Homo sapiens: one gene and its partners. The protein of the gene in region 4 interacts with the protein of the main gene of each other region in a biochemical or structural test. Each region holds a gene or a part of one and is shown on either strand. Other genes may lie near its edges. The genes, in order: H2AC8, BAZ1B, BAZ2A and KAT8.

What was found.
Region 1: of the proteins of KAT8 (region 4) and H2AC8, one has a biochemical effect on the other in vitro, tested with the Homo sapiens proteins (one study listed by BioGRID).
Region 2: the proteins of KAT8 (region 4) and BAZ1B form a complex in vitro, tested with the Homo sapiens proteins (one study listed by BioGRID).
Region 3: of the proteins of KAT8 (region 4) and BAZ2A, one has a biochemical effect on the other in vitro, tested with the Homo sapiens proteins (one study listed by BioGRID).

The regions. Positions count from the first base shown.
Region 1 is NC_000006.12:26,212,325-26,218,233, reverse strand, and holds H2AC8 (histone H2A type 1-B/E), read right to left. Parts: upstream 1,314-5,909; 5' UTR 1,260-1,313; coding exon 867-1,259; 3' UTR 797-866; downstream 1-796. Other genes in the region: H2BC8 (histone H2B type 1-C/E/F/G/I), read left to right, coding at 1,591-1,971. UniProt on the Homo sapiens protein: Core component of nucleosome. Nucleosomes wrap and compact DNA into chromatin, limiting DNA accessibility to the cellular machineries which require DNA as a template.
Region 2 is NC_000007.14:73,519,040-73,527,512, forward strand, and holds the start of BAZ1B (tyrosine-protein kinase BAZ1B), read right to left. Parts: upstream 3,255-8,473; 5' UTR 2,895-3,254; coding exon 2,788-2,894; intron 1-2,787. UniProt on the Homo sapiens protein: Atypical tyrosine-protein kinase that plays a central role in chromatin remodeling and acts as a transcription regulator. Involved in DNA damage response by phosphorylating 'Tyr-142' of histone H2AX (H2AXY142ph).
Region 3 is NC_000012.12:56,627,120-56,635,747, forward strand, and holds the start of BAZ2A (bromodomain adjacent to zinc finger domain protein 2A), read right to left. Parts: upstream 3,208-8,628; 5' UTR 3,006-3,207; intron 2,653-3,005; exon of another isoform or gene 2,555-2,652; intron 1,625-2,554; exon of another isoform or gene 1,562-1,624; intron 1-1,561. UniProt on the Homo sapiens protein: Regulatory subunit of the ATP-dependent NoRC-1 and NoRC-5 ISWI chromatin remodeling complexes, which form ordered nucleosome arrays on chromatin and facilitate access to DNA during DNA-templated processes such as DNA replication, transcription, and repair.
Region 4 is NC_000016.10:31,120,629-31,128,469, reverse strand, and holds part of KAT8 (histone acetyltransferase KAT8), read right to left. Parts: intron 1,436-7,841; coding exon 1,382-1,435; intron 1,282-1,381; coding exon 1,117-1,281; intron 421-1,116; coding exon 331-420; intron 1-330.

The DNA of each region.
Region 1 (5,909 bases), on a different chromosome or scaffold from region 4:
TAGTGTTTATTTTAGAATACTGTGTTAATTGCTCCTTTTGAAAAGAGAAATCCAACAAACACAATTCTCACTAGAGGAATGTAGTCTTTTTTTTTTTTTTTTTTTTTGAGACGTAGTCTTGCTCTGTTACCCAGGCTGGAGTGCAATAGCGTGATCTCGGCTCACTGCAGCCTCTGCCTCCCGGAGTCAAGCGATTCTCCTGCCTCAGCCTCCCAAGTTGCTGGGACTACAGATGCACACCACCACGCCCGGCTACTTTTTGTATTTGTTTAGTAGAGACGGGCTTTCATTATGTTGGGCAGGCTGATTTCGAACTCCTGACCCTATGATCCGCCCTCCTTGGCCTCCCAAAGTGTTGGGATTACAGGCATGAGCCACTGAGCCCAGCCGGAATGCAGTCATCTTTAAAACTTAAAAAGCCCGCCCTGAAATGCTAATGGGCAGCTATCCTTCTTTGTTCTCTCGTTTCTGTATTAATATTTCACCCTTTTCTGACAAGTGCACATGAATAAACAGCCTGTGTATTAATGATAAATTTGTATACACAGCATGGACCTATACACAAAATAACGCAGTGAAACCTTGGTGTCACAACCTCGGTTTCTATTCTTGTATACCTTTATAAACGCATTTTTACTGCAAAGAAACACCAGTAAGATAAATTAGTGCATGAAATGTGAGCAAGGATTTCAATAAAGAACTGACCAGTAACGTCAGAAGCGTTCGTTAAAAATTAGGACAGTGAACATTGAGATTTCAGGCATCGTATGTGTATTCCAGCACTTTACAGAAAAGGTGGGTGGCTCTGAAAAGAGCCTTTGGTTTCTGGGACTCGGGATCACTGACGGATTTGACTAGTAATCATTTCACTTGCCCTTGGCCTTATGGTGGCTCTCCGTCTTCTTAGGCAGCAATACGGCCTGGATGTTGGGCAGGACACCGCCCTGCGCGATGGTCACGCGACCTAGAAGCTTATTTAGCTCCTCGTCGTTGCGGATGGCTAGCTGCAGGTGGCGCGGGATGATGCGGGTCTTCTTATTGTCGCGAGCCGCGTTGCCAGCTAGCTCTAAGATCTCGGCCGTCAGATATTCCAGCACCGCTGCCAGGTACACTGGAGCGCCGGCCCCGACTCGTTCGGAGTAGTTGCCTTTGCGGAGGAGGCGGTGCACACGGCCAACTGGAAACTGAAGACCGGCCCTGGAAGAACGCGTTTTAGCTTTTGCCCGAGCTTTGCCGCCTTGCTTTCCACGTCCAGACATAGTGGCTTCCTAACAGCAGAAGAACTAACAATCCACTGAATAAAGAAAAAGAATGGGCTCGATGGAGGAATAAGAAGCTAGTTATAGTCATCGGTAGAATTGTGAAAGGCGCAATTTGATTGGTTAAAATTGTTCTTTGACGAGCCAACCAATTAGAAAGGAAATAAGGTGAAGGCTATTTTACATGTATGCGTCACTAACACATTGCCCAATCAGAGCTGGATATTTTGAATTCTTTATTTGCATGAAAGGCCTATAAAAGGAGAGACTCTAGACACGAGCTTTTATTTAAGTGCGTTCATTCTCACTGCTGTTATTGTTTTCTGACAGCATGCCTGAACCAGCTAAGTCAGCTCCTGCTCCGAAGAAGGGTTCCAAGAAGGCTGTGACCAAGGCGCAGAAGAAGGATGGCAAGAAGCGCAAGCGCAGTCGTAAGGAGAGCTACTCCGTGTATGTGTACAAGGTGCTAAAACAGGTTCACCCCGATACTGGCATCTCATCCAAGGCCATGGGCATCATGAATTCCTTCGTTAACGACATCTTCGAACGCATCGCAGGCGAGGCTTCCCGTCTGGCCCACTACAACAAGCGCTCGACCATTACCTCCAGGGAGATCCAGACCGCCGTGCGTCTGCTGCTTCCCGGAGAGCTGGCCAAGCACGCAGTGTCCGAAGGTACCAAGGCTGTCACCAAGTATACAAGCTCCAAGTAAATGTGTGCTTAGGTGCTTTAAAACTCAAAGGCTCTTTTCAGAGCCACTCAAGTCTCACATAAAGAGCTTTAATATTGAATTTCACCGTTTTCTAGGGAATAATTTTTCCGATTTTGTAATCCCAGCACTTTGGGAGGCCGAGGCGTGCGGATCGAGACCAGTTTGGCTAACGTGGTTAAATCTCGTTTCTACTAAAAATACAAATATTAGCCGGGCGTGGGGCAGTCGCGTGTCATCCCAGAGACTCGGGAGGCTGCCGCAGGAGAATCACTTAAACCCAGCAAGCAAAGGTTGCAGTGAAAAGACATGGCGCTTTTGCATTCTAGCCTGGGCGACAAAGGCGAGGCTTCGTCTCAAAAAAAATTGATCAGGAGATACTCCTGTTCTGTGTTGGCAAGATCCTGTAATCCTAGCACTTTGGGAGGTCGATGCATGAGGCTTTCTTCAGCTCAGGAGTTAACAGATTTGCCTGGGCAACATAGAACTCGTCTCTGCAAAAAAATGAAGCTAACCAGGTGTGACGGCTTGCGTCTGTACTATCATTTACTCGGTAGGCTGAGGTGGTAGGATAGCTTAAACTCTCGGGCTAGAGACTGCAGGAACATGTGAATACGCTAGTGCAATTCCAGCCTGGGCAACACTGGAAAGGGTAGGAAGAGTAGTCTTTGGGTCCCTAAAGATCACCTGATAACAAGTTTGACTTTTCTGAGCACTCTTGTGGAGTTTGTTGTGGAGGGAATACCATGGGCATTGGCAATGTAAAGTTGATCTAAAAAATCTCGTTTTCCGCCGTGCGCGGTGGCTCACGCCTCTAATCCCATCACTTTGGGAGGCCGAGACGGGCGGATCACGAGGTCAGGAGGTCGAGACCATCCTGGCTAACACTGTGAAACCCTGTCTCTACTAAAAAAATACAAACAAAATTAGCCGGGCGTGGTGGCACTCACCTGTAGTTTCAGCTACTCTGGAAGCTGAGGCTGGAGAGTCACTTGAACCCGGGAGGCGGAGGTTGCAGTGATCAGAGATCGCGCCACTGCACTCCATCCTGGGCGAAAGAGCTAGATTCCATCTCATAAAAAAAAAAAAAAAAAAAAAAAAAAAAAAATTACAGTTTTGGCTGGCTGGGCGCAGTGGCTCTCGCCTGTAATCCCAGCATTTTGGGAGGCGAGGCTGGTGGATCACTTGAGGTCAGGAGTTCAAAAACAGCCTGACCCACATGGTGAAACCCCGTATCTACTAAAAATAACAAAATTAGCCGGGCGTGGTGGCGCATGCCTATGTTACCCCAGCTACTTCGGAGACTGAGGCAGGAGAAACGCTTGAAACCGGGAGGCGGGGGTTGCAGTGAGCCAAGATCCCGCCATTTCATTCCAGCCTGGACAACAAGAACGAAACTCCGTCTCAAACATAGAAACCATTAGTTTATACTCATTAATCAAATTTCTAAAATGGGACCAAAAAAAAAAAAAAGGTCACTACTCCATAGTACTCCATGAGCAACCTCAGGTTTCTGACAACATAGTACTCCAAAGTATGGCGCCTTGACATAGTAAATATTCTAAGACATTAGTAGAACAACATAGACAAGAATGTTCGTATGACCTTCCTCTGAAGCAGGTCTTAAGACCCTCCTGGGAGTCTTGCAGAGTATGCGAGGAATCTGAACAAATAAACCTTGCTAGATTTCTCCTTGTTTATTATCCTTAGCTCATATTATTTTTGTCTTGTTATATTTCTGCATGACTCTCTTCATCAAACCTAGTGCAAACACACTCAGGTTTAAGCCCTTCTTCAGGTCCTTATTTCCTTATGTCATGTAAAACTTCATATTAAATGTGAATGTTTTTCTCTTGGCCGGGCGCGGTGGCTCACGCCGGCTCACGCCTGTAATCCCAGCACTTTGGGAGGCCGAGGCGGGCGGATCACGAGGTCAGGAGATCGAGACCATCCTGGCTAACACGGTGAAACCCCGTCTCTACTGAAAATTGAAAAAAATTAGCCGGGTGTGGTGGCGGGCACCTGTAGTCCCAGCTACTCGGGAGACTGCGGCAGGAGAATGCCATGAAGCCGGGAGGTGGAGCTTGCCGTGAGCCAAGATCGGGCAACTGCACTCCAGCATGGGCGACAGAGCAAGACTCCGTCTCAAAAATAAATAAATAAATCAAAATAAAAATAAAGTGTATATTTTTCTGTTGTTAATCTGTATTTTGTTTCAGGGCCCCAGCCAATGAACATAAGATGGGTAAAAGGAAACGCTCTTTCCTCCCCTACAACATACAGTAGGGGTGGGTGTGCATCTGTGTTCTGTGTGTTTGTCTTTGTGGAGTACAAAAGCTAGCATAACATAGAAAAGGTGTGGAGAAAAGTATTCCCAGAATGAAAATGTTTGAGAAGTGTGTTCGCTAGGGCTGCCAAAACAAACTACCAAAGACTGTGTGGCTTAAAAAAATTAATTTTGTCACAATTCTGAAGGCTACAAGTTCAAGATCAAACCAGTGAGCATGATTGATTTTTTCTGGGGCCACTCTCCTTGGGTTTTCCCCTCTCTGGTCTTCCCTGTGTGTGTGTGGGTTGTGTTTTAATATCATCTTATAAGGACAGCAGTCAGAATAGATTAGGACCTACCCTTAAAACCTCATTTTACACCTTTAAAGACCTTATCTCCAAATAGTCACATTTTCAAGTAGTTGGTATTGGACTTCAATGTTTGAATTGTGGGCTGACTTGGATTTCAGTCAGGCAATTCAGTCAATATCAAAAATTATGGTGATTAGGCTTCTAAATAGTACATGAAATAAGTATTTCACAGGCATCTGAAACTCAGCACAACCAAGACAGACCTTATGATACTCTACCTGGCTTCACTTACTCATCCAAGTTTGAAATCTAGTCCCCATTCCAGACTACTCCCTTTTCTTTTCTGCAAATATTTAAAAATATACAAACTCATTGATTTTAACTTCTAATTTTGTTAATATTGTCCATATTTTTGTTTACTGTGGCTAACAACTGGAAATACTAATGTTGAAGAGTTGGACTTTGCCTAAAACTAGGTTTTATCCCTAATGGAATATTATGCAGCTGTTAAAAAGAATGCTTTAAAAAAAACGACATAAAATATGCTCATGGCATTGTATGGGGTAAATCCAAGTTGCCAAGTAGTGTATTCTTATTTACATGATGTCACACACACACACACACACACACACACACACACACATATAGTTTTAGGAAAAAAGAGTGACTATAAGGGTCAATGCCAAGATGTTAACAGTGCTGTTACATTTTTTTTTTTGGTGCAACAGACAGCTCCTCTAAAGATAACTTTCTCTATTTGTCTCTATCCCAAACTATCAATGGTGTGGTTAAGAAATAGGAAACTCGGCCGGGCGCGGTGGCTCACGCCTGTAATCCCAGCACTTTGGGAGGCCGAGGCGGGCGGATCACGAGGTCAGGAGATCGAGACCATCCTGGCTAACACGGTGAAACCCCGTCTCTACTAAAAATACAAAAAATTAGCCGGGCGTTGTAGCGGGCGCCTGTAGTCCCAGCTACTCGGGAGGCTGAGGCAGGAGAATGGCGTGAACCCGGGAGGCGGAGCTTGCAGTGAGCCGAGATCGTGCCACTGCACTCCAGCCTGGGCGACAGAGTGAGACTCCGTCTCAAAAAAAAAAAAAAAAAAAAAAAAAAAAAGAAATAGGAAACTCTCCCTAGGCCCTTTCCTCTCCAAGTCTCCCTGCTGTATGTTAAGAAAAATTAATTTATTCCACAAGTAATTATTGAGCACCAACTACATACCAGCTATTATCCTATGCAATATACAAATGAATAGAGTAAATTTAAGATACGCTGACTAAAGAAATCGAAAATCAAGAGAATAGAATATCCTAGCATAAAAGGAAATAAACCAGGAAAAAATAGACTAAGAAGTATTTGTG
Region 2 (8,473 bases), on a different chromosome or scaffold from region 4:
TAATGTACCATACAAAGCTACAGTACAATCAACATAATCACCAATATTTAACACCTAGTCATTAAATGTGTGCATTACTCACAACTTCCACTAAGTTTAATGAAGATTCACAATATACTCCAAGAACATACCAACATACAGCTTTAAGTCAGTAAAATATCACACAAAGTTCTGTGATACATGCAATCAAAAGGTAGGTATTAAAAGAAAATTAAAATATCAAGTCCCATTAAAAACATAATTGTAAATATAAGTTGAGAACTGGGAATACTACTTCAAAGGCAGCTGTTACCTAACCACATATTTGTTCTCCTCTATGAAACCACTAATAGCCTAATAAAGAAATATGCCAATCTGCCAACCATACAGTACAATTGTTTAAAAACCATCCTCAAAGTGCTTCCACTTGCAGAAATTCCCGAAAGAGCAATTTCCCCCCAATATATAATATGTTTTAAGACTTCTTTTGTTAAAACAGTTTTAAATGCTGTTATGGGAAATTAAAAAATGAAGAATGTTTATTAAATACATACCACTTAAAATGTTTCCGGTTTCAGTTTTAAATTGTTACCATCAAAACTCTTCATATATATATTTCAATTTCATTCATTCAATAATATGAAAAAGCCTGCGTTGCCAGTCCTAAATTAACTTCCTACAGCCATTTTTTACATAGCTCAGTACCTGAAATATACTTAGAAATTGTCTCTTCTCTATGGCATGTTTCTTATACTCTGCTAGAACCAGACCTGAGAAAGTATCATCTGAAAGTGTGTGAGCATCCATCAACGGCTCAAAACATTAATGACATTGGAAAAGTATATGTCGGATTCTCACAAGTTGCTACTCCACTGCCGATTCGAATGTATTAAAAAGTAGGGTACTGGCCAGGCGCGGTGGCTCACGCCTGTTAATCCCAGTACTTTGGGAGGCCGAGATGGGCGGATCACCTGAGGTCAGGAGTTTGAGACCAGCCTGGCCAACATGGTAAAACCCCATCTCTACTAAAAACACAAAAAGTTAGCCGGGCGTGGTGGCACGCGCCTGTAATCCTAGCTACTCAGGAGGCTGAGGCAGGAGAATCACTTGAACCCTGGAGGCGGAGATGGCAGTGAGCCCAGATCGTGCCACTGCACTGCCACCTGGGTTAACAAGAGGGAAACTCCGTCTCAAAAAAAAAAAAAAAAAAAAGTGGGGTACTTCGGTATAATGCAGTATTTGGTAGAGCTAGTGGAACTTCTCCAGAACATTCCAAGTCTTCACAGGACAAGAAAAAAACCAGATCACCACCCCTCCACTTTAAAGTGCCTTACCTTATACCATAATGACAAAAAAGTGAGGTAATATTTAAATTAATTGAAAGTGAAGGAGTAACATTCCACCTTCTTCTGTTGATTGACTTACAGGGATGAGGTAGGAAGAGCGGTGGATTCTACTCCTCTTTCATCATTTGACCTTCAACAAGTCAACCTCCACTCTCTGGGCCAACTCAGCAAACCAAGCCCGAGGACCCGACCACCTCCAAGATCCACTTCAGCTCCAAGATGCTACAGCTCTATTTCTCCAAGAGCCTTCCTCCAGCATGGACTGATTTTCCAGGCCCCTTTGTGTGTATACTCCCCACAAAGGGACACTCACAAATTGCACTCCAACAAGAATGAGATTATCCTCTAAAGTACTGCGTTAAAGTGAGGATCAGGGAGAAATGAAATAACTCTGAGAGACACTTCCTCCTATACAGAAGCAAGCAAGAAACTGAGAAATGAAGTCCTTCCGAACAGAAGGGGCTGAGAAAACTCATAACACATTAGCCTTCACTCTTAAAGCTTTCAGTCACCAAAGAAATGCTTGATTCCGAAATCGTTTTTGTTTTTTTTACAGATAAGCCTCAAAAACGATTCTTCTGGCACCCATTAAAAAAAAGCAAATAAAAGCTGCACAACTTTTCACTAAAAGATAATGCTTATGCAAGAAATCTTAGTCATGACGAGAGGATGCTTCCTTTGTAAAACATCCAATTTCATGTTCCTAAAATACAACATAAAAACTTCACGTCTTGGTTTTTTTGTTTGTTTAATTTTAACAAATACCAATCTCCTTCTAAACCTTCAAAATTTCAAACCTGTGTCTGCCCAGGGAAGGCAGGCATCAGCTCCTCCACAGGCAGTTTCCTTCCCTCCCTTTCCTCTAAGCGGGGAATCTCATTCCTAGTTTTCTGCCCCAGGGTCCTGTCAGTTCATCCCCGGCCTAAAGTCCCCTCGGGAGACGAAAAAAACGCCAAGTATCCCCGCAGAGATCGGGGTAAGACGCAGTTGAGTCTTGCACACGCCGCATCACGAGGCCGCGCGAGTACAATTTCAAAACTTAAGCTGCAGGTTTCATTTAAATTTTTAAAAAATTTTTGTAAAAATTAAAGGAGAAAACCTAGCTCCCCCTCCCCACGCCTCCTCCTCCCTCTCGGGTCCTCAAGGCCTAAAGCCAACCCGGGGAAGGTAATGGGGATGGGGGATGCGCTCCTCGCCGGCGAGGCCCCGGGACAAAGTGCGGGGCCCCGGGGGCGGCCGAAGCGGGCCCTTCTCCTTCCAGGGCCGGTGCGCGCCCCCCGCCGGATCCCCTGGAAGGATCGGCGGGCGCAGGCTGAGACTCAGCCTCCAGGCCCGCGAGCGGCCGGGGCGCGCTGACAGCTGCCCCGGGCCGGGGATGCGCGGCTGACCTGGTCTCGCGAGCCCCAGGCCCTACCCCGGCCCAGCCCGGCCCAGCCCGGCCCGCGCGGCTGGAAAAGGATACTCCCGGGTGCGGAAGGCCTCCTGAGTGTGCGGGATGGTGAAGAGCGGCTCCTCTCCGGGCAACGGCTTCACCAGCGGGAAGGGCTTGCGGCCCAGGAGCGGCGCCATCGCGGCGGCGGCGGTGGGGACTGGCGGCTGCTGGGGCCGGCCCCGCGGCGCAGCACTAGGCCCCGCGGCCCGGAGCGAGCGCCAGGCGCCCGGGGGTGGGGTGGGGGAAGGGAGGGGTGAGAGGGCGGCGCGAACTCCGGCTCCCTCACCGCCGGCGCGGCCGCGCGACAGTCATGGAGCGGAACGCCACGGCGCAGAGCTCCCGCGCACACCGCCGCGCCTCCCAGCAGCCCCCCGCCGACCTCCGCTTCGGGTCCCGGCGGCCGGCAGTCACGACTCCTCCTCAGCAGCACCGGAGGAAATTATTGAAAAATGGCGGGAGATTCCCCTCCTCCCCCGGGCCCGGCCAACGCACACACTAACTTGCTCCCCCGTGGCGCCGGTGGCGAATGCTCCAATAGGCGGAGAGCTGGTCAGCGCTCACAGCCTATTGGCTCGGAGGAGCTGCCGCTCCGCGCCTGGGTCCCGCCCCCCTGCCCCTGTCGCGTAGTTGGGTTGCAGCGCACTAGAGGGCAGTCTGAAGAGGTGAAAGGTCACGTTATGTAAGCGCCCGTGATAGGCGTGCGGGCCTCCGACGGCAGAGTTAAAAGTGGGGGACAGCGGGGGATGGAGAGGACGAGAACTCAAAGAGGTCAAGCCGGAGAAGCCCCTCGCATATACAGATACTGCGCCATCTGTCACCGACGGCGACACCGACATCCGGGCACCACTGTCCGTGTGGTGCGCCGGAGGGGGAGGGTGAGCGCGCGGCCAGGGGCTTTGTCTTTCCTCTTGGGCGCCTCCCCCTTCTTAAAGGCGCCGTGCTCGGCCACGCCCGGGGATGCGCGGGTGGGGCTGGGCTGCAGGGAGGGGTTGGCGGGAAGTGGCCCCGGGAGCTTACCCTACCAAAGGTTCTGCGGAAGGACAACGTGGGGGCCAGCTTTGCTCACCCCAGAGTTAACTTCTGGGCGGGAGTGTGGTTGAGATCTGGGTAGAAGTATACTGCTTGTTTCTAGGGGCTGGCTGGAAAGTAGAATATAGAAGCTTCTTTGGAGAAATAGATTAAAAGACGTACTTAGTTTTTTGGTTTTTGGTTTTTGTTTTTTTTGAGACGGAGTCTCGCTCTGTCGCCCAGGCTGGAGGGCAATGGCGCGATATCGGCTCACCGCAACCTCCGCCTCCCGGGTTCAAGAGATTCTCCTGCCTCAGCCTCCCAAGTAGCTGGAATTACTGGCGTGCACCACCACGCCCGGCCAATTTTGTATTATTAGTAGAGACGGGGCTTCTCCATGTTGGTCAGGCTGGTCTCAAACTCCCGACTTCAGGTGATCCGACCGCCTAGGCCTCCCAAAATTATCATTATTTTTTTTTTTGAGACGGAGTTTCACTCTTGTTGCCCAGGCTGGAGTGCAGTGGTGCAGTCTCGGCTCACTGCAACCTCTCCCTCCCGGGTTCAAGCTATTCTCTTGCCTCGGCCTCCCGAGTAGCTGGGACTACAGGTGCGCGCCACCACACCCGGCTATTTTTTGTATTTTGTAGAGACGGGGTTTCACCATGTTGGTCAGGCTGGTCTCGGACTCCTGATCTCAGGTGATCCACCCGCCTCGGCCTCCCAAAGTGTTGGGATTACAGGCGTGAGCCACCACGCCCTGCCAGAGCTGTGACTCTGGCTTTTTTTTTTTTTCTCCCATGATACTCAGCACCTGGCTCGGAACATTGTAGGTGCTAGTGAATACTATTTGAATGAATTGGATCTACCTTTTATTTTTTATTTTTTTTGTAGAGACAGGGTCTTACTTTGTTGCCCAGACTGGTCTCGAACTCTTGGCCTCAAGCAATTGTCCCGCCTCTGCCTCCCAAAGTGCTGAGATTAGGCGTGACCCACTGTGCCCAGCCAGGATGTCTCTTTAATAGGTACGTCTGGGCCGGGCGCAGTGGCTCACCCCTGTAATCCCAGCACTTTGGGAGGCCGAGGCGGGCGGATCACGGGGTCAGGAGATGGAGACCATCCTGGCTAACACGGTGAAACCCCGTCTCTACTAAAAATACAAAAAATTAGCCAGGCGTGGTGGCGGGTGCCTGTAGTCCCAGCTACTGGGAAGCTGAGGCAGAATGGCGTGAACCCGGGAGGTGGAGCTTGGAGTGAGCGGAGATCGTGCCACTGCACTCCAGCCTGGGCGACAGAGCGAGACTCCGTCTCAGGGAGGCGGGGGGGGGGGGGAAATAGGTACGTTTGGTCGGGCACGATGGCTCACGCCTGTAATCCCAGCATTTTGGGAGGCTGAGGCGGGCGCCTCACCTGAGCTCGGGAGTTCGAAACCAGCCTGAGCACCATGGAGAAACCCTGTCTCTACTAAAAATACAAAATTAGCCGGGCGTGGTGGCGCATGCCTGTAATCCCAGCTATTCGAGAGGCTGAGGCAGGAGAATCGCTTGAATCCGAGAGGGGGTGGTTGCGGTGAGCCGAGTTTGTGCTATTGCGCTCCAGCCTGGGCAACAAGAGCAAAACTCCGTCTCAAAAATTATAATAATAATCACAGTTCTATACAAAGTGCAGAATAAGAAAATAGCATCAACTATTTTAATGCTATTAAATGGGGAGCATTTCAGTTGCTTCTCCAAGCAGACAACACCCACATCCAGAATTTGTTTGGCTTTCCAGTACAATCAAAAACACACTCATTAAGTTATCTCCCTATTAAACTGTCTCCCTTAGTTTAAAGAACTTCACTTTAAAGTTTCCCAGCCTGTACCTTCCCAGCTGTACCTTCCCAGCCTGTCCTTCAACGGGGCTAGACTGCGAGGTGTCTCTAAATGCAGTCTCCTAATGTCAGACCTCTATCTCCTTTTCTTCTCACCTCAAGGATCTCCTATCCCCACTAGGAGGTCTAGGTCAAAAGCTACCTCTGTGAAGTTTCCTCTGATCACCTAGCAGAAAAGATCTCGGTTCCTTTTCCTTGAGGCAGTAGACTTTTCTCCCAAGAACAGCAGGAGAAGCCTTGCCAGAGCACATAGCGTTTGAGTTAATTGAGAAAAGAAAAGAGTTCTCTAGACAGAGAAGGAGGGACGAACATTATAGACAGAACAGCAGAGTGAAGCCTGGAAGTTCAAGATCGTGTGCCCAAAATGTGAGGATTTGAGGCAGAATATATCAGATGAGAATGGTAAAGGAAGTGACCATCCTGATATATTCTGTAATGGCTGAATCGGAGTGACTACTTAGAAGGGAATTACAGGGCTAGGCATGGTGGCTCACACCTGTAATCTCAGCACTTTGGGAGGCTGAGGAGAGAGGATACTTTGCGGCCAAGAGTTTGAGACAAGTCTAGGCAACATGGCAAAACCCCGTCTCTGCTAAAAATACAAAAATCAGCCGGGCGTGGTGGCGCATACCTGTAATCCCAGCTACTTGGGAGGCTGAGGCAGGAGAATTGCTTGAACCCGGGAGGCAGAGGTTGCAGTGAGCTGAGATGGTGCCCAGTCTGGGCGATAAAGCGAAATTCCATCTCAAAAAAAAAAAAAAAAAAGCAAAAGAAAACAATTTGATATTTCAGAACAGCATCTCACTTTGCACATGTGAACTGGGCACCATAATCATTTCAGCGCTTGGGTCCGCTGTGGGCTAGAATCCATTGCTGGGATTGGTGAAGATGGGATCTGAGATGGGAAAATCGGTAATGGGCTTGGTTTCAGCCATGTGAACTCCAGGTACCCTGAAGAGCCATCCAGAACACAGCCGGAAATTCTGAGGGAGGAAGTGGGAGCTGGAGGTGGGGCTTGGTGGTCACAGTACAGAAACTTGAGCTTCAGGAACCATATAGAGCTTATGAAGAGACCCCAAATAAAGAACAGTGCTCATCTCGGGGAAATGGATTTATGGTTTTTGCGTTTTGTCTCATTTTGAGACAAGATCTTGCACTGTCGCCCAGGCTGGAGTGAGTGCAGTGGGGGATCACAGCTCACTGCAACCTCGACCTCCTGGACTCAAGATCCTCAGCCTCCAGAGTAGCTGGGACTACAGGCACACACCACCATGTCCTGCTAAGTATTTTCTTTTTTGTAGAGACGGTGACGGGGATGGGGTCTCACTGTGTTGCCCAGGCTGGCCTCAAGCCCCTGGCCTCAAGGTTTCCTCCCTCCTCAGCCTGTCAAAGTGCTGGGATTACAGGCATAAGCCACCGCACCAGGCCTGGAATTACAATTTTTTTTCTTTTCTTTTTTTTCACCCCTCCTTTTTCACTGGAATTACAATTGATGTGATTTTCTTCTTTATATTTTTCTATATTTTATGATTATGTTTTTATAATGACTACATTATTAGTTTGTTTTTGAGATAGGGTCTCACTCTGTTGCCCAGGCTGGAGTGCAGTTGCACAATCTCAACTCACTGCAACGTCCACCTCCCAGGCTCAAGTGATCCTCCCACCTCAGCCTCCCAAATAGCTGGGACCACAGGCACACAACACCATGCCCAGCTCTTTTTTTGTGTTTTTGGCAGAGACAGGGTCTCACCATGTTGCCCAGGATGGTCTCAAATTCCTGAGCTCAAATGATCCACCCACCTAAGCCTCCCAAACTGCCAGGATTACAAGCGTGAGCCACCACTCCTGGCTCTTTTTCTTTCTTTCTTTTTTAAAATACATTTTAAAAACTATTTTAGGCCGGGCAGGGGTGGATCATGCCTGTAATCCCAGCACTTTGGGAGGCCGAGGCGGGCAAATCACGAGGTCAGGAGTTGGAGACCAGCCCGGCCAATATGGTGAAACCCTGTCTGGCTCTACTAAAAATATAAAAATTTAGCTGGGTGTGGTGGTGTGTGCCTGTAGTCCCAGCTACTCGGGAGACTGAGGCAGGAGAATCGCTTGAACCCAGAAGGCGGAGGTTGCAATGAGCCGAGATCGCGCCACTGCACTCCTGCCTGGGTGACAGAATGAGACTCCATCTAAAAAAAAAAAAATATATATATATATATATATATATATTTTAATAAAGACACGTCTCACTATATATTGCCTGGGCTATTCTCAAACTCCTGCCTCCTGGGCTCAAATGATCCTCTCACTCTGGCCTCCCAAAGTGCTGTAATTACAGTCATGAGCCACCGCACCTGGCCCTGGTTTTATTTCTCTTAATGGCTTCGCCTTCCTGTTTAGCCCACAGGCTCAGCCTCTGACCTCTCTCTTGAGCTCCACAGCCTCAGGGGCAACTAGATAACATCCATTCTAGCAGCCTAAAATCTTGAACTGTTTCCCCTTCCTGTCTTTCCACAGCACCTGCTTCAGGCCTTTATTATTTCTGCCCAAAATTGCTATGATACTGACTTGTTGCTTAAAAAAATGTTTTCAGTTGCATTCAAATTATGTATTATCATGGTAAAATGAAAACAGTTCCAAAAAGAAACATATATCAGTGTGCAGATGGATGGATTTTTAAAAAACATAAAAACATAGTTCCAAAGAAAATCAAATACTCCTACAAAAAGCAGCCCAGCCACACTCCTCTAACCACTTCCTGCTCCCCTTGGGCATCCATTTCCAACTCCTTAAACGTTTCCTCTAGTCTTTAGCTCTATATTTTTAATAATTCATATACTGCTATTT
Region 3 (8,628 bases), on a different chromosome or scaffold from region 4:
AAATAAATAGTGAAAAGATGATTTAAATGACAGGCTTACGTAGTTTTCAGAATAGTCCAAATAATCTGAAAATGTTATCTTTCAAGGCTTGGCCCTGTGGCTTATGCCTGTAACCCCAGCACTTTGGGAGGCTCAATTCGAGTTCGAGACCAGCCTGACCAACATGGTGAAACCCCTTCTCTACTAAAAATACAAAAATTAGCCAGGCATGGTGGCGCATGCCTGTAATTCCAGCTACTGGAGGGCTGAGGCAGGAGGATCGCTTGAACCTGGGAGGCGAGGGTTGCAGTGAGTCCAGATGGTGCCACCGTACTCCAGCCTGGGCAACAGAGCGAGACTCCATCTCAAAAAAAAAAAAAAAGAAAAAGAAAAAAACAAAACTTTATCTTTCAAAATCTAAAATCCTGTGGTCCTGGGGTCATAGGCCGGGCATGGTGGCTCATGCCTGTAATCTCAGTACTTTGGGAGGCTAAGGCAGGCAGGTCACTTGAGCCCAGGAGTTCAAGACCAGCCTGTGCAAACTGGCAAAACCCCACCTCTACAAAAATTACAAAAAATTAGCTGGATGTGGTGGTGCGTGTCTGTGGTCCCAGCTACTCAGGGGGCTGAGGTGGGAGGATCACTTGAGCCAAAGAGGTCGGGGCTGCAGTGAGCTATGATGGCGCCACTGCACTCCAGCCTGGGCATCGGAGTGAGACCCTGTCTCAAAAAAAAAAAAAAAGAAAGAAAGAAAGAGAAAAGAAAAGAGAGAGAGAAGAGAAAAAAAAGAAAAGAAGAGAAGACCAGGCATGGTGGCTCACACCTGTAATCCCTGCACTTTGGGAGGCCGAGGTGGGTAGATCACCTGAGGTCAGGAATTCGAGACCAGCCTGGCCAACATGATGAAACGCCGTCTCTACTAAAAATAAAATAATTAGCTGGATGCGGTGGCGGGCTCCTGTAATCCCAGCTACTCGGGAGGCTGAGACAGGCAACTCGCTTGAACCCGGGAGGCAGAGGTTGCAGTGAGACAAGATCACACCACTCCAGCCTGGGCGACAAAAGCAAAACTCCGTCTCAAAAAAAAAAAAAAAAAAAAAAGACAGAAAGAAAAAAAAAGAAAAGAAAAAGAAAAGAAAGAAAAATAAAATTCTGTGGCCAACTGTTGCCCCTAACCAAATCCAGTGTGCCACAAAATGCCTGGGGACATAGCACACAGTCCATCACTATATGTTACAGGAGAAATATCCTGGGATTATCAAGTGAAAAGAAAGAAAAAAAAAATCTGGGCACGACTTTGCAGGGAACAGAGGAAAAGCTTACCAATCTCCAAGAAGAATAAGAGGGGAGACGTTCTTTTATGGATTAAAGAGTAAGTCATATGATAACAAACTGTACTATTCTAATTAGTTGATTCTGCAGAAGGTAGTATCTCCAGCACCCCTTAGTCAAATAACAAGCTTCCCACAGGGGCTGCCCTTAGGCTAGAATCACCACCAAGGACTGAGTTCACCAATCTCAGTCTGTTAATCAGTCCCTACCCCCGACACACAAATCCATCTAATAGTTAAATCTTCCTCACCCCTTCCTCTTCGTCCATTTCTTAGAATCTACCCTTCTTCACAAGCTCACTTGCTCAGGTGCTCTGCAATATAGAAACTGTCATAATAACTATACTAAAGTAGGACCCCAAGAAGCTACTCGTGCCACAAAAGCTCTCTAGTCTCCCTGACAGCTCTCTATGCTGAGGGAATTTGCATCACTTACATAGAGCGTACCCCGCTGGTAGATAACTGAGTTTGCTTCTCTATGACCTCTAGCTAAAGGGAAAACAAAACGAAACCAGACAGGAAGACAGAGATGTTCTGGAGAAGGGATTGGGATACGTGAGTCAACTGAAGTTGACTACTTCCAGTTGACAAGTTTACAAAAAAAAAAAAAGTCCAACGAAAGGTCTCTCGGGCCACATGGTTGGCAAGATCCAAGCTTGCCCAGAAGGCTTCAGAAAATGAAACCAAATCTGATTAAAATGGACATTTCAAAACAACAAGACACGCAGCAGCAAACGCACAGCTGCCATTTCCCGGCCACTTCCTGCGGGAGGCTGGGGGAGGGGCTGTTTGTGTACAGATAGAGGTGGAAAGCTATCCCCTCCGTCGTCCCCCAAAGCAGACAAATCTCTCACTCCAATTAACCCTACAAAGGACAACTGCTATTGACATTGCCTTCTCCTGAAAACTGGGAACACCGGGAAAGAAAGGGATGATGCGGTATCATCTTTCTGCCACGGAAGCGGGGATCCCCTCAGTGAGGAATCTCCTTGGAAAAAGGAATTCCTCTTTATTCTTCCCTTCTGCCCCTCAGCCCAGCTCAAATTGGAAAGCCTCAGCGGAAGCCCTATCAACCTCCATCCCCGGAGTGCGCGATTCTCCCGGGACGCGAGGGCCCCAAGCCAAGCGCAGCACCACCCTCAGCAAGGAAGGCCCTCTCCTGATCTTCACGCTCAAGAGAATGGGTGCGCTCCCCGAGGGAGACACCCTCAGACCCCTGGAAACCCCTTCCGCCCTCCACTCACCACAGTCAAAACGCCCAGCTCCCCGCAAACGGAGCGTTTTAACCCGCCAAGGGAACCCCCTCACCCACCCCTCGCGCTCAGGCAATCCCCACCCCCACCCGAGGAGGTGGAGCCCCTCCCGGGGATTCCACCCCAAGTCCCCCACAGGAGTCATCTCCACCAGCCAGGCGGCTTCTCCGCCTCCTCACTGTCGCCGGGAGCCCCTACAGCTCCTCCTGCCCCCGCGGCCCCGTCCGGGGTCCTCAGCAGCCCCACCAGCCCTGTTCTCCTCCCAGACCCCAGAGCAAGGAGACCCTCGCCTCGGGTTGGATCCTCGCAGGAAATAAGCTCCCGTCGGCTTCCCGCCCCGGCAAGGCTCAAGCCGGCTCTGGAGCTTCTGTTCCCCGAGGGAAGCCTCGGATGAAAGCGGGGCTCCCTCCCCCTCAGGCCCCTGGCCACAGACCCCACAAACCTGAGGCAGCGGCGTCCAGCCGGGCTCGGGGCTCGTCTCTCCCCGGGGTACAAGCGGTTCACATGGCCGCGCTCCGGGCGCCAGAACGGGTGGAGACGCCCGCTGGGGAGGGGGTCTGGGGTCCGGGGTTCGGGAAGGGGGAGGGGGACGCGGCTCAACCGCGGGGCCCGAGAGGAGCCAACATGGCCGGCGGGGGAGGAGTGAGTCGGAGCCGGAGGGGGCGGAGAAGCCTCGGCCGGGAGAGAGTCTCCCCACGCGGCCTCCGCCACAGGGTCCTAAAGCCCGCCAGCCCATCTTTCCGACCCGGACCTGGGTCCTAGCGCCGCTGTGCCTCCTGCAACTCTGGCCACCTTGCCCACCTGGCAGCTCCCTCTGCACCCGCATCTCATGGAGGCAGTGGTCCTGCTTCACACAGGGCAAACTGAAAGGCATGCCACAGTCCCAAGGTTAACTTAAAAGACTAGACCAAACGTCTAGGCCCAAAGGCAGGTGCCACTTCTCTAACAGGCTGGTAGGGGTAAGAGTCAGGGGAATTTCGGGGGCAGTTATTTCCCAGGTAGGGTAATGGAAACGTGGAAATAGAAAGGTTAGTCACTCAGGTCGCGATTCAGTAAAGGGATGGGGAGAGGCAAGAGTCAGCCACCCACTCACCTCTGTCCCTTCAGTGCAGCCTGGTCCTGCCTGGATCACCACTTTCCTGGCGACATCTGCAGGGCCCTGGTCACCGGAAAGGAAAGATTCCTGTGCGTGGGGGAAAGAAGGTTCGGCTCTGGAACCAGACAGCAAAGACCTGAGTGTAGCCTAAATGCAGTCAGAGAAGTAAAGGATAAGCTGAAAACTAATCAGCAAAAAGATGCCACAAATGTCCACCCATTCTATGGTTCTGGGAATTTTTTTCTGACAGGGCTACATAACTGTGTGAAAACTCAGAAAAGTAAAATCTAGCAGAGGACTAGAGTTTGGCTGTCACCTAAAATGTCCACTGCAGGGCACCAGGATGAAGAACAGTGTCATATGATGTTAGAGCTTAGAGAATTTCTAGTTCAGGCCGGACGCGGTGGCTCACGGCTGTAATCCCAGCACTTTGGGAGGCCGAGGCAGGTGGATCATGATGTCAGGAGTTCAAGACCAGCCTGACCAACATGATGAAACCCGGTCTCTACTAAAAATACAAAAATTAGCTGGGTGTGGTGGCGTGCCCCTGTAATCTCAGCTACTCAGGAGGCCGAGGCAAGAGAATCGCTTGAACCTGGGAGGTGGAGGTTGCAGTGAACTGAGATCGCGCCATTGCACTCCAGCCTGGGTGACAGAGGGAGACTCTATCTCAAAAAAAAAAAAAAAAAAAAATTCTAGTTCAACCTTCTCTCCTTCATCAAATGAAGAAATTAAGACCCAAAGAGGTTCAATGACTTCTTCAATGTCAAACAGTGGATAAAATATGACAAGAAAGGAAACCAGGTTTCCTTTCCTTGCAACTCAACACTTTGCAGCCTTGAAGATAATTCCCATTTAATTCAATGCAATGCAGTTCTAGAAACAGTTGCCTAAACTGTGCAAAGCTCAGGCTGCTGAATATTCTGGAAAAGCAACAGAGTGGGGATGATGAAACTCTGGCAAGTTGGGGTGTCAACAAATACGTTTTCCTCTGGGGGTCTGAGGAGGAAAGAGATCTGAAAAATGGGCAGAGTTGGGGGGTGAGATCCATCAGTCTACATTGGATTTCCTTACTCCACAGAGGGGTGGGCTCTTCCTGAATTTTGGGGAAAGACTCCACCCCTCCACCCCCCCACTACAAATGGCTCAGAGAGGATAAGAAGGAAGCTAGCTTTAGCAAAGGCTCACAGAGTGTGTGGGCCACAGACACAGAAGGCTAAGGGGGTTTCTCTTCCTCTCTCGAGATAAGTAGATTACCAGTGGAGGGAATAGGCAGGTGGAAACCAAAACCCTTCTCTCCTCCCTGTCAAAACAACAGATTTACAGGTCACCTTGGGGAAAAAAAAATACTCCTCCAACAGCCTGCTGACCTCAAGTCCCTGAGTAAGTAGAGGTCACACTCAGGGTAGAGGTTTCCTTCCTTCTGGAGAAAGGAGGGCTCTGGCAAACTTCTGCTAAGAAATGCCTCTCTATCCCCAAATAAAAAATTAAGGCAGGTGAAGAAAGGCATAAAACTGAGGCCTCAAGGGCGGCGGGATGGGGGTGTGGGTAAGGAAGCTGGTATCCTTTTGTCTTCCCTGCCCTTTTCCAGAGCAGATGAGGGAGAATCTTCCTACCTCCTGCTCCCAATCTTAAAGGGGGCCAGTCGGGGACTGGGCAGGCAGGGGAGGAGCCTGCGCCCGTCAGACGGGTGTAGCCACGCCCCTCCCCACACCCACACACACCCACCACTGGCTCCACTCTGCTCCGGAAGAGCCGGTTACTCCTGTGCCCCACTGACCGCCCCCACCCCTTCCGAGCCCCAGGCCTAGTCTCCAGGGCAACCTTTAGGACTATTCCAGCCAGGAGCGGTTAGGAAGAGGGGTGTTGGATAGGAGAGGACCACTTGGGATTAGAAAAGAAAATGAGGTAGGATCCATTCTTCCCATCTGGTGCAGAAAGACTACAATCATCCTCATTCCTGAATGAGACCCCACCTCATCTCATCTAATCAGGATCTTCCTTGCTCTGAGGAAGGATGAGGTTGGGGTGACAGTGTGCCCAACAGCTGGATGTTTACTTCTTGCTAGAAGTCACCCCATGCTGCAGCTGTGCTTCTCCCCCCATCCAGACGAGAGAGGGCAGACTGACCCCAAATGTCCCGAAACACTCCTCAATCCCATCAGATGTGGCTGATCACCCACCCACCTCTCTTTTCCCCACCCATTTCCCTTCAGGAAGCTACTAGAAAGGGGAAGGGGCAAATGGTCATTTTATCAGCAACTTGTAAGGAGAGTCTCCAGGGAATAGGCTGAACCTCCCTCAAGCCAGGCCAGTGGACTAGTCATGAAGAGAATGGGGAGGGACAAATTAGCACCTGCACCCCCTTTCTCACCCTCCCTGTGTTCCTGCAGCACCTCCCTGACTCTGGGGTCAGCTGCCACAGTGCCTGGCTCCACTCTGTAGCCAGATGGCTAGGGCTGGGAGGAGGAAGAGAGAGAAGGGGATTCGTTTGCATCCCTCTACATCCTTCCCTCTCCCCCACCAGATACTCCTGGCATCCAACCCCAAACACCACTGCTGAACACCCTCTCCTCCCCCCAGCACCCCCTCCAAACATGACTTAGAAGAGTCTGAAGCAGATCTTGGCAGCCAGTCCCCTAATTCTGGAAGTGAGGAGTGGGAAATGAAAGAGCATAGCTAGGGGCGCAGCTGGACTGGGGGTGGAGGGGGAATTCTCTAATGGAGGTGGGATAATTATTAAAGACCTGCCTTCCCCTCACTGGCTGAATGGATCATACTGTTAACAGGATCTGTCTAGCAGGGAGATGGCTCTTAGCCGGGTAACCATTCCAACTAGACCCCCCCACCAGGTTAAAGCAAAAGTCTTCACCCCCTCTACAATCTGGGAAGGCTAGATTCTCCCATAACACATCACAAGGAAAACACCCCTCCCCTTCTTCCCCCACTTTTGTTTGTTTGTTTGTTTTGTTTTGTTTTGAGACAGTCTTGCTCTGTCACCCAGGCCAGAATGCAGTGTTGTGATCTCAGCTCGCTGCAACCTACGCCTGCCAGGTTCCAGCCTGCCAGGTTCAAGCGATAGTAGCTGGGATTACAGGCACACGCCACCACGACTGGCTAATTTTTGTATATTTTGTAGAGACAAGGTTTTGCCATGTTGCCCAAGCTGGTTTCGAACTCCTGACCTCAAGTGATCTGCCCACCTTGGCCTCCCAAAGTACTGGGATTACAGGCGAGCACACTCCACCCGGCCCCCTTCTCCCCTTTAAGTCGACAGGTGGCTCCTCAGATTCACACAGACTTGTTTCCAAACTTCCCAATGGGATTCTCTATGGTGGTCCTGGAAGTTAGAGAAAGCCCCTATTTCCTAGGGAGTCGGGGGGCTTCCTTTGCATCTGAACAGAGAAGACTGGACTTCTCTTGCCTTCCCCATCGCCCCAACTCCCTTAGAGATTTAGCCCCAGCTCCCCACGCACTCTCTCCCAACTGTCCCTGAGGCCCTGAAGCACAAGATTCCGGCAGCGCCCTGGCCCCCAGCTCCCAGGTTCTGGGGGAGGGGCCTTCCTAGGCTGCACCGACCAACCCTAGGCCCAGGAGGAGAGTCCTTCCCACCTGGGCTCAGTAGGCGGTGCTGAGGTTGGACCCCAAGCTCCCGGAGATGTAGGGTGGGGTGAGGACTACAGAAAAGGTTTAGATGGGACTTAGCTGAACTTAAAGGGCTGAGCGGAGCAGGGACAGATAGTGCTGTCGATGTTGCTCCCCCGCCCCCCTTACTACGGGGAAGGAGAGGAGTTGGGGTGGGTATCCCCCCTCCCATTGGGGTTAGGAAGGCGTGGGAAAGCGCTAGTTCAGAGGGGAGGAGGCGAAACCCAGACCGCGGGAGATTTTTCTGGCGAAGAAGGCGCGGGGGAGGGGGAGATCCTGGGCCCAGAATAGGAAAGGTACTCGGGAGACGATGGCGGAGAGGCGTGAGAAGCCTCCGGATTCCGGTCGCGGAGGACAGGGGGAAAATGGGCGAGTAGATAGTTCAGGGGAGAGAGGAAGGGCAGCTCCCTCAGGGGGAGAGTCAGATCCCGAATCCCGGGGCAGCAGGGATCCCGGGGCAGGATACCGCAGGAACGGCCCGCCAAGGGACTCCGGAGCTGGAGGTGGGTGCCGGGCCTCACCTGGAGCAGGGCCGGGCCGCAGGCGGCGGCGGCGGCGGCAGAGGCGCAGGTGGCCGAGCCGGGCGGCGGCTGCGCCTCCTCCCCCAGCCCTGGGCCGGCGGCGGCGGAGGGGAGGAGGTGGTGCTTAAAGGGGCAGGAACTACCGAGGTGAGGACAACCGCTCAGGAGAGCAGTCGCGAAGGATCCACTGGGGGAGAGGATAGCGGGTGGCGTCTCCTAGGGGCCAGAACCAGGAAGGATCCCAGATGGGAGGAAGAGAACGGATCCCAGAAAGAGACAGAAACTTCTGCGGTGAAGTGGGGGATGGTGGTAGGTCCGAAAGGAAGGACTTGGGAGAGCTCTGCCCGCGCTCCCAGGGCACCAGCAAAGACCGCTTCACAAAAGAGGCCGGGGAAGGCAGAAAGAGCTACATGGGCTCCTAGGAGGCCTAGGGGTGCAGGAGAGGGAACTCAAGGCCGAGCCTGCTGGGGGTCACGCGCAGCGCCCTACTAGGTGAACTGGTTCCCCGTGTTTCAGCTCCTCAGGGCTCCATCCCTACGGCTGTGGGGCCTTTGGAATCAGGAAGCCACGAAGGCAAAAACCTCCTATCCTCTCAACCTCAATCCTGCGTCCCACTCAGTGCCCTCAGTGACTGTAGTGTGGGGGCCATCAATAGCAGCCCTGGTGAGGCTGATGTGGGACCATGAGAATCGACTTTGGTTCAGTTTTCCCCCAACCACCACCACCCTTGCTTCAGTCTCTGGGGCAACAGGAAGCAGCTGCTCAGTGCAGCCCCCACCTGAAGGTGGGTCAAGGTGGGGGAG
Region 4 (7,841 bases):
AGGTTCAAGCAATTCTTGTGCCTCAGCCTCCCGAGTAGCTGGGATTACAGGTGCGCACCACCACGCCAGCTAATTTTTTGTATTTTTAGTCGAGGAGTTTCGTCATGTTACCCAGGCTGCTCTCAAACTCCTGAGCTCAGGCAATCTGCCCACCTCAGCCTCCAAAAGTGCTAGGATTACAGGTGTGAGCTGCAGTGCCCGGCCCCTCAGAGGCATTCTGCCCATAGAGGCTCAGCTAAGGCTGCCCCCTCCCCTTTGGTGGTGATGAGGATCATCTGGGAGGTGCCCAGGGCCTCCCCGGCCTCTCCCAACCCCTGGCCACCCACTCACCTTATGGTCTTTGCCATCAACTTCGTACACGGAGATGTTGCTCTTGCGGTAGATCTCTTTCCCGGGGGGCTGCCGCCACTGGCACTGACCCTGGTCGGGGACAAGAGAACAGGTTCGCTGCCCATATGTTCTCTGCTAGGAGGCACCCAACCCACCACTGCATGCTTTGGAGCAAGTCTCTGCCTCTCTGTTTCCCCCCTCAACACTTCACCTACATCGAGTAATCCTCCCAGCAGCCTTAGGAAAGTGATCCTGCTTTTACAGACCAAGGCCCAGGCACAGAGATCCAAACATCACACAGCACGGTGGGGTTTTGAGTCTCTGTGGGCCTGGCTCTGGAGGGACCCGTCCATGACAATGGCTTCCCTAAACCACACCTATTCGCTTCAGATTCCACACTTCGGGAAGCAGCCCACTGTGTCAGTGATGAGAGCGCCCCTTCCTGACAGCCCCCAATTTCATCCACACTTAAGGTCCCACTGCCAGGGGCTATGTGTGCTTCCTGGGATGGAGCTGGCCTTGGCAAAAGACCTGAAGGGGGTGAGTTACTGTCCCCATTCCAGAGAAGAGGAGCTGAGGTCTGAAGTTGGCAAGGTCACCCTGCCAGCAACAGCAAAGCCAGGCCTGGAATCCAGGCCTCCTGACCCCCAGCAGCTCTTCCCTGTACTCGCTCCTTTGGGCCTGTCTCCTCCCTGGAGCTGCCGGCGCAGCCGCCCTCAGTCTCCATGCCTGCCTCTGCCTCTCACCGGGCCCCTGCCCAGCTCGGCCCGGCCGGCCCAGCCTCACCAAGTGGAAGCGGTAGCTCTTCTCATATTTCATGTACTTGAGGCAGTACTCGCAGAGCCAGAGCTTGGGCTGTTTCCCATAGTCTTCGGGGAATGGTGAGAAATACCAGGCATCAATTTCGTAGTTCCCGATGTGGATCTTGTCCACATACTTCACCTTGGTGATCTGCAGGCAGGGTGGGAGTGAGGCACAGTGCACGGCTCAGCAGGGGCTCCTCGGCAAGGGGAGACGGGGGACCTGCAGGCAGCTTCCCAGCCCCACTTACCGCCTCATGCTCCTTCTCCAAGGCTGCTGTGGTGGGGTCCATCTCTGCATAAGTCTGGGCCAGGAAAGAAAAGTGGGCAGAGGTGAACAGAAGTGGTGACCAGGCTGTCCCTCCCGTCAGGACCCACAAGGCTTCCCTGCCGTCTACCAGACCTCATTCCTGGATGGCAATAATAACCACACCAATAGCTAACCTATCTGACTTGGTTCTGAAGCTGGCTGGTCCAGACTCCTCTCACACCCACCCGCCCCACCCCCGATATCCCAGACATCCCTGATGTCCAAGTTTGGACCTTTTGCCAGATGAACAGGGTTAGGATCAGGATGGGGCTTCAGCTGCACGATGGGGGGCAATCCAGCTCTGCCAAAGTTGTGAGACTCAAATGAAATAACAGATTTGCCTTCCAGGCCCAGCGTAAGAACTGTTACTACCTCCCCGATGTTCCTGGACCCCTTTCCTGAGGACCAGACCCTGCCTGCCCATGCGACTGCCCCAGAGGTCCCTCCCACAGGGACAGCGGACTCAAGATGTGCAGAAAGGACCTCATCACTCCTCCCTGCAAACCTGCGCCTCCTCCTGGGTTGCTCATTTTACTGGGAACATCACCCTTGGTCCCAGTGTCCAAGACCCATAACTAGGCTTGCCTCAGACTACTCTCTCTCCCTCGGCCTGGCCAAGTCCTAATACAGTGGATGTCGAGTCTACTTCTGACATCTCTGGAATTGGGCCCTCTCTGGAATTCTCCTCTCTGTCCTGCTCCAGGTAGTCATGGCCCCATCTCAGGTCTGGACAATTTACTAGGCCGCCTCAGACTCCCTGCCTCCAGCCCCAGCCTCCTCATTGCTATCAGCAGCCCCCTTTTAGCGGCCTTCATGCTTCTGCACAAACAGCTCCTTCTACCTGGAGAATGCCCTTCCTTCTCTCACTGCCAGCAGAAAACACTTCCTCAGCCTGGCACGGAGCATGAGTCAGGTGAGTCCATGATGCTTTGTGATCTATCCTTTGTCACTGTTGTTATTGTGCTCTTTCCCATCCTTCAAGGCTTGAGATTCTTACCACCCCCTCCAGGAGGCCTGACTGGATTCTTCCCATCCAGAAAACATTCCCTCCTTCCCAAGTTCAGCGAGAAGTGGTCAACAGGGCAACACTGTCCAAGTATGCCCACCTGGGTTCCTCTATTTTTCAAGTCCTTAGAAAGCAGAGACTAAGAGTCACACCACACTCACAACACATCCTGCTCCTAGGCCAGACCCTGTGGGAGGAACCCAGTACAGCCTGACAATGGAAGGGGGACCCAAGACGGTCCATGACCTACACCAGGGCAGACAAGGCCCTGCCCTGTAGCTGAGAAGGGAGGAAGGAGCCAGTGCTTTACCCAGAACCCCCTCCACAAAGCACTGTGCCTATATGTTTATATGGCCTCATTTAATCCTTTCAGTAACCCTTACATAGAGTGTTATTTCTTTTTTTTTTTTTTTTTTTTTTGAGACGGAGTCTCACTCTGTTGCTCAGGCTGGAGTACAGTGGCACCATCTCGGCTCACTGCAACCTCCGCCTCCCAGGTTCAAGCAATTCTCCTGCCTCAGCCTCCCAAGTAGCTGGGACTACAGGCACATGCCGCCACATCCAGGTAATTTTTGTATGTTTAGTAGCAATGGAGTTTCGCCATGTTGGCCAGGCTGTTCTCAAACTCCTGACCTCAGGTGATCAACCAGCCTCGCACTCCCAAAGTGCTGAGATTACAGGCGTGAGCCACTGCACCCAGCTGCGTTATTTCAATTTTACAGAGTAGTAAACAGGCAGGGCAAGGTGAGGTCCCTTACCCTCGGGGACTAGTGAGCTGCCATTTATTCCAAGTGGCAAGCACGGCACAGACATGTTTTTTTTTTTTTCTTCTGAGATAGACTCTCACTCTGTCGCCCAGGCTGGAGTGCAGTGGGGAGATCTCAGCTCACCACAACCTCTGCCTTCTGGGCTTAAGTGATTCTCCTACGTCAGCCTCCCAAGTGGCTGAGACTACATGTGCCTGCTACCATTCCCAGCTAATTTATTTTGTTTTTTGAGATGAAATTTTGCTCTTGTTGCCCAGGCTGGAGCAATGGTGCAATCTTGGCTCACTACAACCTCCACCTCCTGAGTTCAAGCGATCTTCCCACCTCAGTGTCCCAAGCAGCTGGGATTACAGGCGCCCACCAGCAAGCCCGGCTAATTTTTTGTATTTTTGGTAGAGATGGGGTTTCACCATGTTGGCCAGGCTGGTCTTGAACTTCTGACCTTCAGATGATCCACCCACCTTGGCCTCTCAAAGTGCTGGGATTACAGGCATGAGCCATAGCCTTTTTTTTTTTTTTTTTTTTGAAATGGAGCCTCGCCCTGTCGCCCAGGCTGGAGTGCAATGGCAAAATCTCACGTCACTGCAACCTCGCCTCCTGGGTTCAAGCGATTCTCCTGCCCCAGCCTCCCAAGTAGCTGGGATTACAGGTGTGCACCATCACACCCAGCTAATTTTTTGTATCTTTAGTAAAGACAGGGTTTCACCATGTTGGCCATGCTGGCCTCCAACTCCTGACCTCGTGGTCTGCCTGCGCCTGGCCTCTTTTTGTATTTTTAGTAGAGACGGGCTTTCACCATATTGGCCAGGCTGATCTCGAACTCCTGACCTCAAATGATCCAATCATCTCAGCTTCCCAGAGTGCTGGGATTACAGGCATGAGCCACTGCACCCAGCCGACATTATTTCATTTTGTTCCTCACAATGAGCCTTTGAAATAAGAGTGCTCATTGTCCCTGTTGTATGAGAGAAAACTGAGGCACAAAGAGGTGAGGTCACTTGCCCAAGGTCACAGAACTGGTACTCAGCAGAGTTGGGCATGGGCCCCTGGTCTGTCCAATTCTGAACCTAACCACTGTAAAGATGAGGAAGAAAGATTTTCCTCCTCACACATCTCTTTAAAACACATTTCCCAATTCTCACAAAATACAGTACTCTTCTGCAAATGCAATAAAGAACTACAAAAACACTACTTTTCTTAATTGTTGCAATTTATTTAGAATTAAACATTAATTAGGCTCTGAAGAACCTTGCTGATTGTTAACTGGATGATTGTTTCATTACCTATTCTTTGATTTTATCACCACTGGCCCGTTATCCACCCTGCTGGTTGCCAACTCAGAGGTATGTCTTTGTTGAGTGCAAAACAGTTGAGGAATTAATCTTAGATCTACACTGTCCAATAAAGTAGCCACTTGTCACATAGGGCTATTTAAAATTATACTCAGCTAAACGTGGTGGCTCACGCCTGTAATCCCAGCACTTTGAGAGGCCGAGGTGGGAGGACCACTTGAGGCCAGGAGTTCCAGACCAGTCTGGCCAACATGGCGAAACCCCATCTCTACTAAAAATAAAAAATAAAAAATAGCTGGGTGTGGTGGCACACGCCTGTAATCTCAGATACTTGGGAGGCTGAGGCACAAAAATTGCTTAAGCCAGGAAGGCGGAGGTTGCAGTAACCCAAGAGCTCGCCACTGTACTCCCGCCTAGGTGACAGAGTGAGACTCTGTCTCAAAAAATGAAAATTTTGGCTGGGCACGGTGGCTCACACCTGTAATCCCAGCACTTTGGGAGGCCGAGGCAGGCGGATCAGTTGAGGTCAGGAGTTTGAGGCCAAACATAGTGAAACCCTATCTCTACTAAAAATACAAAAATTAGCCAGGCATGATGGTGCGTGCCTGTAGTCCCAGCTACTTGGGAGGCTGCGGCAGGAAACTCACTTGAATCTGGGAGGCGGAGGTTGCAGTGAGCTGAGATCGCACCACTGCACTCCAGCCTGGTTAACAGAGTGAGACTCTGTCTCGAAAAAATAAAAATAAAATTTTTTTAAAAAATGATAATTAATTTTTTTTTGAGACAGTCTTGATCGGACACCCAGGCTGGATGGAGTGCAGTGGCATGATCTTGGCTGACTGCAACCTCCATCTCCTGGGCTCAAGCGATTCTCCTGCCTCAGCCTCCTAAGTAGCCGGGATTACAGGTGTGCACCACCACGCCCGGCTAATTTTTGTATTTTTAGTAGAGATGGGGTTTTGGCCATGTTGGCCAGGCTGGTCTCAATCCCCTGACCTTAAGTGATCCACCCACCTCCGCCTCCCAAAGTGTTGGGATTACAGGCGTGAGCCACTGCACCCATAATTTAAAAATTTTTTTTTTTTTGAGACGGAGTCTCACTCTGTCACCCAGGCTGGAGTGAGCCCAGGATCTCGGCTCACTACAAGCTCCACCTCCCGGGTTCACGCCATTCTCCTACCTCAGCCTCCCGAGTAGCTGGGACTACAGGTGCACGCCACCACGCCCGGCTAATTATTTTGTATTTTTCAGTAGAGATGGGGTTTCACCATGTTAGCCGGGATGGTCTCGATCTTCTGACCTGGTGATCCACCCACCTTGGCCTCCCAAAGTGCTGGGATTACAGGCGTAAGCCACCGCGCCCAGCTAAAATTCTTAATTCTTCGTCACACTAGACACATTTCAAGTGCTCAACAGCTACATGTGGCTAGTGGCTACGGTACTAGATAGTACAGCTATAGAACATTTCCATTACAATAGGAAGTTCGATTCGGCAGTTTAGACCTTGAGGAGTTCTTCCAGTTTAGGGTATTTCAATTTTTTAAATCACACCACAGTAGGAAGTACACTTGGCACTGTAACATGTCTGTATATACACACAAGTATGTGCTAGGATCATCGGGAAGGTAAGGCTGGAACAAGAGGAATCCTGCACACTTTTATTGGGTGTGAAATAAAAGCTTCTCAAAACAATACCTACACTTAATAAAGTGCAACACCCTGATTTTTCTATCTTATCCACTTTCTTTCTTCCATTTAAAGAAATTTAAATGTTGGGCTTGCCCACTAACTCATGTACTCAGAAGGATGAAGCTGCAATAGCTGAAAGTAACAAATGTCTGGGTGTCTGGAGACTTTGACAAATCTTGCTCTGGTGTGCACTCCTGATTTTTATAAATTTAGAAACTGAGACTTGGTCGGGCGCAGTGGCTCACACCTGTAATCCCAGCACTTTGGGAGGCTAAGGCAGGAGGATCGCTTGAGACCAGGAGTTTGAGACTAGTGTGGGCAACATAGCAGATCCCGTCTCTACAAAAAAATAAAAAATTAGCTGGGCATGGTGGCACGTGCCTATGGTCCCAGCTACTCAGGAGGCTGAGGCAGGAGGATTGCTTGAGCCCAGGAGGTTGAGGCTGAAGTGAGCCATGATTGTGCCACTGCACTCAGCCTAGACGATAGAGTAAGACGCTGTCTCAAAAAAAAAAAATAACAATAATATGTACAATTATTAAGTATCAATACAAGAAAAAACCAAGGCAGGTACAGGGATGCACTCCTGTAGTCCCAGCTACTTAGAAGGCTAAGGCAGGAAGAACATTTGAGCCCAGGAGTTCAAGTCCAGCCTGAGCAACACACCAAGACTCCCGTCTCTTAAGAAAAAAACCAAAATCATTGCTAAGGCCTCTGGCTCTGAGGTAGCACAATTTAGCTGGTTGATCAAATTCCTGTCTGGGTCCCTAAACTTATCTGTAGCTCTTCTGCATGCTTACTTCACAGGCCTACTGTGAAATGTCAGTGAGGTCATGTATTAAAACACTTAGCTTAGGCCGGGCGCAGTAGCTCACGCCTGTAATCCCAGCACTTTGGGAGGCCGAGGTGGGCAGATCACCTGAGGTCAGGAGTTCGAGACCAGCCTGACCAATATGGCGAAACCTCGTCTCTACTAAAAATACAAAAATTATCCGGGCGTGGTGGCAGGTACCTGTAGTCCTAGCTACTTGGGAGGCTGAGACAGGAAAATTGCTTGAACCCAGGTGGCGGAGTTTACAGTGAGCCGAGATCATTCCACTGTACTCCAACCTGGGCGACAGAGCAAGACTCCGTCTCAAAAAAAAAAACAAAAAACAAAACACACACACACACACACACACACACACACAAAAACCATTTAGCTGAATACTTCTGCTCACCGGCTAACAAGTGTTTGGCATTATTATTCTAATTCCAGCCCACCGTTTTACTGGCTGTGTGACCTTGGGCATGTTACTTAATCTCTCTCAGCCTGCTTCCTCACCTACCAAAAAAGTAACTATTCCTGTGTGTTGAATTGTTGGGAAGGATTTGAGGAGCTTATACATATACAGCACTTGGCAGGGTGCTTGGCTATAGCAACTGCCGAATAACATTCTCGTCTTTCCCACTGAACTTCAAGTCATTTTTTCTACTAAGACACAGCTACTAGGAGACAAAAGAGGCTACCAGTGCCGGAGGCCTGAGTTCTAGTCCCAGCTGTGCCATTTCCTTGCTGTGAGACTGCAGCGAAGCCCTTACCCTCTGTCTGTTTTCTTACCTATGAAAAGTAAGTAAGAGGAAGTAGGTAAAGTCCCTGACACACTA